Regions from separate parts of the Homo sapiens genome. Here all the other regions are linked to region 3. The links come from fine-mapping of genetic effects on gene expression. A gene starts in region 3. Each other region holds a variant in brackets. All regions are shown on one strand. Distances are between the middles of the regions.

Region 1 (2,646 bases), 110 kb after region 3:
CCGCCCTCTCCCCACTTTTTCTTTTCAGTGCTCAAGATTCACGACATGCGAATCTTCTTCCACCCCCACGTCCCTGCTTTCTTCCTAACATATGTCCAGCTGATCGTGGGGGGCGGGGAGGGCGGGGGAAGGGGAGCAGGATGGGAACCATATTTATGGTGCTTAACTCAGCAATTGCTAAAGGAAGAAATAATGACTTCCAGGGGGCTCTGGGCCTTTTTTCCAAGGCCTTTGTGTTTTCGTAATCTATGACAATTTTGTGGTGTAAGCAAAAGTTATTACAAAACATGGAACCAGCCTAATGAGGAAGGTTATGTTCTAAACCAGGAGGGACTATCTCTTTATAGAGGAAATTCAAATTTGGCTGGCTTTGGAATTCGGAATCCCTGGGCTTTCCAGAGAACTTTTGGGAGAGACTCTCTCGAGCTTGGTGTGTCTGACAACTGGAACTGGCCTTTCAGTTTTTCTAGAGATCAGATGGTTTGTTATTTCAAAAGGTGTCTGGCCTATGGATGGGAAAAGTTGACTAGCTAGTTAGGTTTACCGGAGACAGATTGGTGTAGATAGGGCACCAGACTTGTGGCCAGGCGATGGGTTTGAGTCTCAGTTGTAATCTGGAGCAAGTAATTTAATATCTGTAGGTCTCAGTTGCTTTGGTGTTAAAATTGGGATTGTGTCCCCTTCCCTCTAGGCTGCTGACAAAAAAAAAGTGAGATGACATAAGTTTAAGGCACGGTGGGAATTCTTTTTTTTAATGTTAATATTTTTGGGGGTACGAGTGGTTTTTGGTTACATGGATAAGTTCTTCAGTGGTGATTTCTGCGATTTTGATGCTCCCATCACCCAAGCAGTGTACACGGTGCCCAAGGTGTAATCTTTTATCCCTCACCCCACTCCCAACCTGCTCCACTCCCCAGTCCCCAAAGTCCACTATATCTTTCATATGCATGGCATGTATGCATTCTTGACAATTAAAGAAGTATGCAGTGATCCCTTCTAATGCTTCTTCATGCAAAGGGCTGGCTCACACTTTCAACAGAGGAGAGAGGCTGAGAACTACAAAGCCTACTGATGAACAGGAGGGAGGTTATTTATACAGTGGCCCAGGACACGATATTACACAGGTGTTTGGGAGGCTGGTTTTGCTTCCAAGTTTGCCCACTCCCTGGTCATCTTCCAGGCAGGTCTTAGAATCATAACTTTGATCACATTCCTTCCCTACCCAGGAAACTCTCTTGTCAAACCCAGACAAAAGGCACCTGCCTGCTCCATCTTGCCTGCCTTTTCTTCTGTAACTAAATCATCTTATGCCCTCACTCTCCGTCTTAGCAAAGTGAACACTGGACGCACAGTTTAGCCACTTGCCCGATGTTTTCATGGTACGTTGCTTGGAGGCCCTTG[T/C]TCCTCCTTCACCTTCCTATTCCTCTTCCTCCTCCTCTCTCTTACATCTTGTTCATTTGTCATTTCTTATAAGATCCTACTTCAACTTCACCCCTCTCTGACTCTCCGCTGATTTGGAACACCTCGAGTAGACACTCCAAACCCTCTGATAAACCCTAGCAACTATCTTTTTTCAGTCTCCACAATTCAAAAATCGAATAATGCCCTAGGTAAAGGCAGCTGACTTGACTTCTCCAGAAGGTAAACTGAGGCCCACCCAGGGAACAAACTGGACAGAGATTACTGTACAGGATTACTGGACAGAGTAAATCCATGACAGACAAAAATAAAAACCCTGCATCCTGATTCCAGTTTGCCTGGAGTTTAAAAAGAGGTTCTTTAGCTTGAATATCCCAGAATAGCCTCTCCTGGGCTGACCAGCTGTGAAGTGATGTGTTGCAAGGGTTATTTTTTTGCCTTGGCTTAACTCTTAAAAAAACACCCCAAACTCCCAAAATCGGCCTAAAAAAAGCCATTTCTCACAATGTCATCTGCTTGCCAAGTTTAAACTTAGTATATTACATTATGAACGCCTCTGGGCCTCACTCTCAGCTTACTGCGACGCTCAGGTATCTGAATTGAGTTCAGAAATCACAGTTTATTGAAGGAAACAGATCATTAAGTCACTCCACTGGACTGAAGCTGTTGACGTTGTTTATTTGGAGAAACTGGGCATTGACTAATGTTCTCTTGATTTGCGTGGATCAGGACTAACTGGAGCTATTTAACAAAGGGTGTGGCCATCAGATAGCATGGGACCCATCTGGGCTAACGGGAAGAGGAACGGGACGGTGGTGTGCTGAAGCTTGCATTGGCTTGTGAAAGCTGATTGGTAAATTTTCAGGAATTTTGCAAGCTGGCTGTGGAACACAGCCATTGTTAAAAATTAAATGATATAAACATATAATTAATTATATTTTAAAAAGGTAATAAATACTAACAACAGATCAGATCCTAATTTTTTTAAACTACAGTTTACTATCATCTATGTGCTTGAGTTATGTTTATTACACATATGGTGGGAAGACTGTAGCGTAGTATACTACTGACTCTCTTCCCAATTCCACAGTCAGTAACATCACATTGGTAGCTTGAAATTGGCCGTGGTGAGAATATTTACACCACAGAAATTGGCACACTCTATACTCAGGGCTTGATTTATTGTTGTGTTGATTATCTAGACTTATGGAAGTGCTAGAGAAAATG
Region 2 (2,803 bases), 190 kb after region 3:
ACACCTGCCTGCTGCATCCCGTGGGACAGGGAGTCCTGTAGGGGGACAGGGTATAGATGACCACAATCACACTTCCACTCTTGGGTTTCGATGGGGGTTTGGTCAGAAGTCAGCAAAACTATGACTTGTTCAGAAAACAGAATGATTAGGCTCTCTGAGAGACCCCAAAGGCCCAACCACTCTGCAGGACCAGGGCCTGGGACCTGCAAGTGAAGCCTAATCTTTCGGGAGCCCCTGGGGAGGAAGAGGATTATGTGAAGTGGTTCCGAAAGGAGGAAGGACCTGAGACTTTCACAGAATTTCTGTCTTTTCCTTCTTGTCTCCATCCTTCTTTCATAGCCTTGGAGGGGAACATTCCAGCTTCTTATAGTTATGGTGAAGAAGGCCAACACCAGCATGTCACTCATGGTCCAGACCGATTTCCTGATCTGGGTGGCCAAGGGTGAGAATAACATTTCCACTGAGCTGATTGATGAAGGACACGGGTACAAGTTTAATGTAGATGGGGCGGATCTGATGGGAGGTCGTGAGAAGAAAAACTTTCTTGTCTTCCTCTGACTTTCTGTTTTCATTTGAAGAGAGTAGGATTAAGTTCTTAGGTCTTAGAGTCAGATGGCCTGAGTCTGCAACCTGGAAGAGACCACCTAGCAATCTGGTCCTACCCATTTGGGAGCCTACTCACCCCACGGTTCCTCTACTTGCAATGAGTTTCCTAAACAGGGCAGGGCCAGATTTCCACCTTGCGCAACTTCTGCTGTGGCTGGAGAAGGAGGATGCTAGCCTCCTTGGTGTTTACGAAATGAGTTATGATATGTAATGTTAGAATAACGTCCAGCACGTAGTATGTTTCGTATGGCAACATCCTTTCCCTCCTCCTCAGCCTGGGGTTGGTTGGCTATGGAGATATGCCCACACTACCACCACTCCTGGCAGCCCCCTGTGTTCAAAGAGTGTGGGAATAGGGTACTGGCCGATGTCCGACGGTCAGCACCGCAGTGGGCCATAAAGCAGCGGCAAAGGGAGCGGCCAGCTCAGATACGGCGCAGGAGATGAAAGTCGGCCGTGTTTTCCTTTCCAAAGTGCTGCTGTGTTCCTGAAGGCCTGCAGCTTCCTCTGCCCTGCTGGGGATTTTTTTTCTTCCCAGTTCCT[C/A]TCAGTGATATCTTAAGAGGCAAACTTCCAGCACTAACAGGAGGTCTTTTGTTCTCCTTTTCTCAAAGCGGACTTTAACCCAGTTACTACAGACTGAGTCACTGTAAAAACAAACAAATAATAATAATACTCCATTTTCTTAAAGGCTCTTCCATGCCTGCTGACAGAAAAGGGGGAACCTGACACTGCCCTGGGCCTGTGGGGCTCCTCCCCGCCTCCGTCTTCTGGAGGCACAGCCCACGAGAACCTTCCAGAACACACTGGAGCCCGGCACCGTGGAACTGTTCAGCTAGGCTCTGGCTTGTTTGGAATTTCATCTGACTTGAAGGGGCCCGTGGACTCAGAGGAATTTGGGTCTCAACACAGTCCCGGTGGGATTTACCCCAGACCGAGGAATGCTTGTTTTACTCCTGGATCTGCTACACACTAAATTCGGGACTTTCCTCCCTTCTCTACACTTTAGTTTCTTTTTATGTATGTGGAACAGGAGTATTAGACACTCTGCGATTTTATCAGAAAGGATTTTACAATGGTTATACTGTGATTTCTCCTTTTCCCTGAGTACATCTCCTCCTGGCTGAGAGTTCCTGGAGGGGGAATGACAGCTAACACATTTCTGAATCCTTGGTCTTAAGCATGGTATTTGGTTCATGGACACACAAGGTGTCTAGTAGACGTCTGTTAAAAGGACACATGAATGAATGAATGAATGAATGAGGTTTGAGTTGGTGTGCTGTGCTTGGTCTGACAATGATATCAACAGGAAGCTTCACTTCATCATCATCAATAATAAAAAGGTAAGGCTTAAGGAGTTCCTACTGATACCACCTCTTTATGTAGAAGTAGCTTTCTCTTCTTGGGAAGCTACTTGTACTTGAGAATTTAGATTTAAAATCAGACCGAGACTGCCATGGGTCTCTAGGACGGCCGTCTATTTTTCTAAGCTGGTCCCCACTTTAACAAATCCCAGGAGCTGAAGCAGTAGGATCTTCATTTACTCTGTTGGGTTTGTGCCCCCGAGATACAGTCCTTTCCATTTCAGCATCAATCATTTGAAAAGTAAATATCTCACCTTCTTGTGACCTGGCAAGGATAGAGTAGAGTTCTCTCCATCAGGGTCAATTTACATCTGTGTCCTTTTTTTTTTTTTTAACTTGTATTTTAGGTTTGGAGGGTACATGTGAAGGTTTGTTACATAGGTAAACTTGTGTTACAGGGGTTTGCTGAACAGAGTATTTCATCACCCAGGTATTAAGCCCAGTACCCAATAGTTATCTTTTCTGCTCCTCTCCCTCCTCTTCTCCCTCCACCCATGAGTAGACCCTAGTGTTTGATGTTTCCTTCTTTGTGTTCATAAGTTCTTACCATTTAACTCCCACTTACAAGTAAGAACATGTGGTATTTGGTTTTCTGTTCTTGCATTAGTTTCTTAAGGATAATGGCCTCCAGCTCCAACCATGTTCCTACAAGAGACACGATCTTGTTCTTTTTATGGCTGCATAGTATTCCATAGTGTATGAAGTCTTAACAAGGGCAGGAGTAGGGTGGGAGTCTCATTTTATAGGGAAAATGTTCCTTGGCTGGTCCTTCCTTCCCTACTCTCTATCCTGTCATCCTCAATGTCCCCTAACAACCAGGAGTGGATGACAGTAAA
Region 3 (2,803 bases):
GCCTCGAGTGCTGGGAAGAAACGTGCGAGGGCCGAGGGGGGCGGCGGAGCCCGCGTGGAAATCGGAAAGAAGCGCAGCCCTGCGACTTCCGCCTGGGTCATCACGCCAGCAGTCGGGCCAAGGCGCAGGGGGCGGGTGGGGGACTCGTTAACTTTTTATTTGGGTGGGCGGCATCCAAACCTAACAGTATATATTTTATCATTTTCAAGGGAGTCATGCTCCATTGCGGGCCCTTCGGTTTCGTGGCTCCCATGTCCCCCTCTCCACCTCCCGCCAAAACGGCGCAGCGTGACAAGCCATATGTTCCACTCCGGTGGGGGCGAGAGAGAAGCAACAATAAGTTAAAAGTGCCGCCTCCCTCCACCTCTTTACCTTCATTCTTACCAAAGTAACCTTTTTTCATTGTTCTAGAGTCTTGAGGTGTGTGTGGGGAGGATGGAGGAGGAGGGAGGGTTGTGGCGCCGCCCAGAATTCGGAGCGCGCGTGGAAAGTAGTGAGTTGCTCGGTGGGCTTTTTCTGGGAGGAAGGGGCATTCAGGAAGGATTAGGGTTTTCTTGACTAAAAAGTTTAAAGATTGGATGCGTGAAAAGAAACGGCACGCCTAGGCCTGGTAAAACAAACAATCGTCCCGGGTTGTGGTCTTTTTTTGCGGCGCCCCCCACCCGCCCACACCCGGAGAGCGCCGGCTGCAAAGCGAGCGCGAGTGTCGACGCGTGCGGCGCACTAAATTGTGCCGCGCTCGCCCCCGCCAGACCATGTCCTCCTGGGGAAAAAGTTTCCCTAGTCCCCCCAGCAGCGCGCCCCACCCTACGCCCCGCTGGAAAAAAAACAGCAACATAAAATCCTAGGCTTGAACATTCTGTGCGTCCCAAATTTCTAATGTCCTCGGCCTGCCCGGTTTGCCGAAGGGAGCCGAGTGTCGAAGAGAAGTCGGGAAAAGGTAAGTTGTGCAGACACTTGGGGAAGTTTCAAGGAGACCGCCAGCTCAAGATGGAAACCGCGGCCCGGGCGCTAAGGACGGGCTTCAGCTCCCGCTGGCAAAAAGAGAAAGTCGAGCCCGCCTTCCTGCCCAACAAAAAACAACAACATGACAACAAGAACCCCGGAGGGAGTGGAATGAGTGACGTCACAGCCGCGCTCTGAGGCTGACAAAGGAGGGGGCGCGCCCCTCCCGCTCTGCGCCCGCGCGGCCCCGGAGAGGGGGCGCCTGAAGCGCCGGGTAGGGAAGTCAGCCGACTTGAAACTTTTCCTCTTAAAGAAAAAAAAAAAAAAGTTGTGCGCGGCTCACAGTGGGGTTTTTTTTTTCCGCCTTCTTTTCTCGTCTCCCCTCCCCCTTCTTCCTTTTGAAAGTTTCTTCTCCTCCCCCTGCCCCCCCTCCCCGCCTGACCGCATGGCTGATTCAACTCCAGTGTCAATCAACTTCTTTTTCCTCCTCTTCCTCATTTAAATAAGTTTAAAGCTCCTCCTCCCCCCGGCCCACCAAATCTGAACTTTATAAATTGGGCTTTGCGCGCCCCAGCCCGGAGTCAGAAAGGCGAGGGGCGCCGGGAACTGGCGTGTGGGACTCCAGACAGGAGAGGCTGCGCCTTCCCCGCACCGGGACCTTCGCGACACACCAGATCCTCGCCCCTGGCTCGCGCGAACGCACAGGATGACCACCACCCTCGTGTCTGCCACCATCTTCGACTTGAGCGAAGTTTTATGCAAGGTAAAGGGGGGCGGAGCATTTGCTTTTCAAAAAGTCTTTTTCTTTTGCCTTAAGAAAGAACCCCCAAAAGTTTGGGTCTTGGAAGGCAATGGGGAAAGTGGTGCAGCGAGATGATTCTTTTCTCCTCCGGCATTTCTCCCAAGTTTGAAGGAATTTGGCCCCGTCCTTCCCACCCTTTGAGTTTCAACAGTTGCTGGCGGGGATTACATGTGAATCTGGAGGCCAGGGTTTTGAGGGGCGAAGTTTGCCTGGCAGGGCAGCCCGGGGGCTTCGGGGGGAGGGCTGGGATTGGGACAAGTTTTGGGCGATCCTGTTTTACGTAACGTGCTGCTGGATCCCAGGTTTGCTGGTCTGATCGGGTTCCCAGTCTGCGCCCTAGGTCTGTCCAGCGGCATTACCCACCCGTGGGGTTGGGAGTGGGAGGTCCCTCGGGGAAGTGAGTCTCGGGACAATGTTTTCCTCCACTCTTTGGGGGGAGCTGGGGATATGCGAGGAAGAAAGGCCAAGTTGTGATTCAAAAAGATGTTGCAGAACAAGTTTGCAGTGGGGCTTGAGTCCGCCCTAGCTCCGTTGGGCTTCTTCCCGCGATAGCCGATCGTGCAGCAAACTTTGGGGTGAAAGAGGCATTCAGGTTGACCCGCTTACCTGTGTTGCCGAGGCATTGCGGCTCATCGATTGCGGGCGGGGTTGGGGGGGGAGGTGGCGACAAAATGCTGGCTTGAACTCGAGAGTCCCGCGAGTAAGGATTTAATGGGGGGCTCCTTAAAACATGTTGCTTGTCAGCCAGTGTTGAAAAAGCAAGTTTTAAACTCGGAATGTTCCAGGACTGCGGTTTAAATGTACATAGCAAAAGTCTATGGATGTTGTTAAATTTCTTTCCAACCTCCCCCTCCCAATTTGAAAGGGTGAAGCTGCTGGGCTACTTTTTAATTGCTGAAGTGTTTTGCCTTCTCTTAACACGTCGGGTCATGTTGCTCTGTTTTCCCAGCTTGCTGCTCCTGTTGGTGCAGCTGCCAACGCCCCAGGGCTGCAGGGTTGGGGTGCAGGGACGCCGAGGAGCTGAAGAGTAGCATTTAAAAAGTTTGAATTTTTCAG

The links.
Region 1: its variant is fine-mapped to the expression of ZFP36L1 in whole blood (TOPMed, PIP above 0.99). The same link has a PIP of 0.9 or more in blood mononuclear cells and monocytes.
Region 2: its variant is fine-mapped to the expression of ZFP36L1 in whole blood (TOPMed, PIP above 0.99).

The regions. Positions count from the first base shown.
Region 1 is chr14:68,680,166-68,682,811 of GRCh38, reverse strand. All of the region lies in intron 2 of RAD51B-AS1 (RAD51B antisense RNA 1), which reads left to right. It also overlaps a transcript of RAD51B not described here. Among named protein-coding and RNA genes, the nearest start is that of RAD51B-AS1, 4.0 kb to the left of the region's middle. The variant T/C (reference allele first, on the strand shown) is at 1,402.
Region 2 is chr14:68,597,301-68,600,103 of GRCh38, reverse strand. It overlaps a transcript of RAD51B not described here. Among named protein-coding and RNA genes, the nearest start is that of RAD51B-AS1, 87 kb to the left of the region's middle. The variant C/A (reference allele first, on the strand shown) is at 1,150.
Region 3 is chr14:68,791,787-68,794,589 of GRCh38, reverse strand. ZFP36L1 (ZFP36 ring finger protein like 1) reads left to right here and starts at 1,523. Exons shown (of 2, transcript NM_004926.4): 1 at 1,523-1,708. The coding sequence starts at 1,652. RefSeq lists silencers at 1,076-1,275, 1,296-1,365.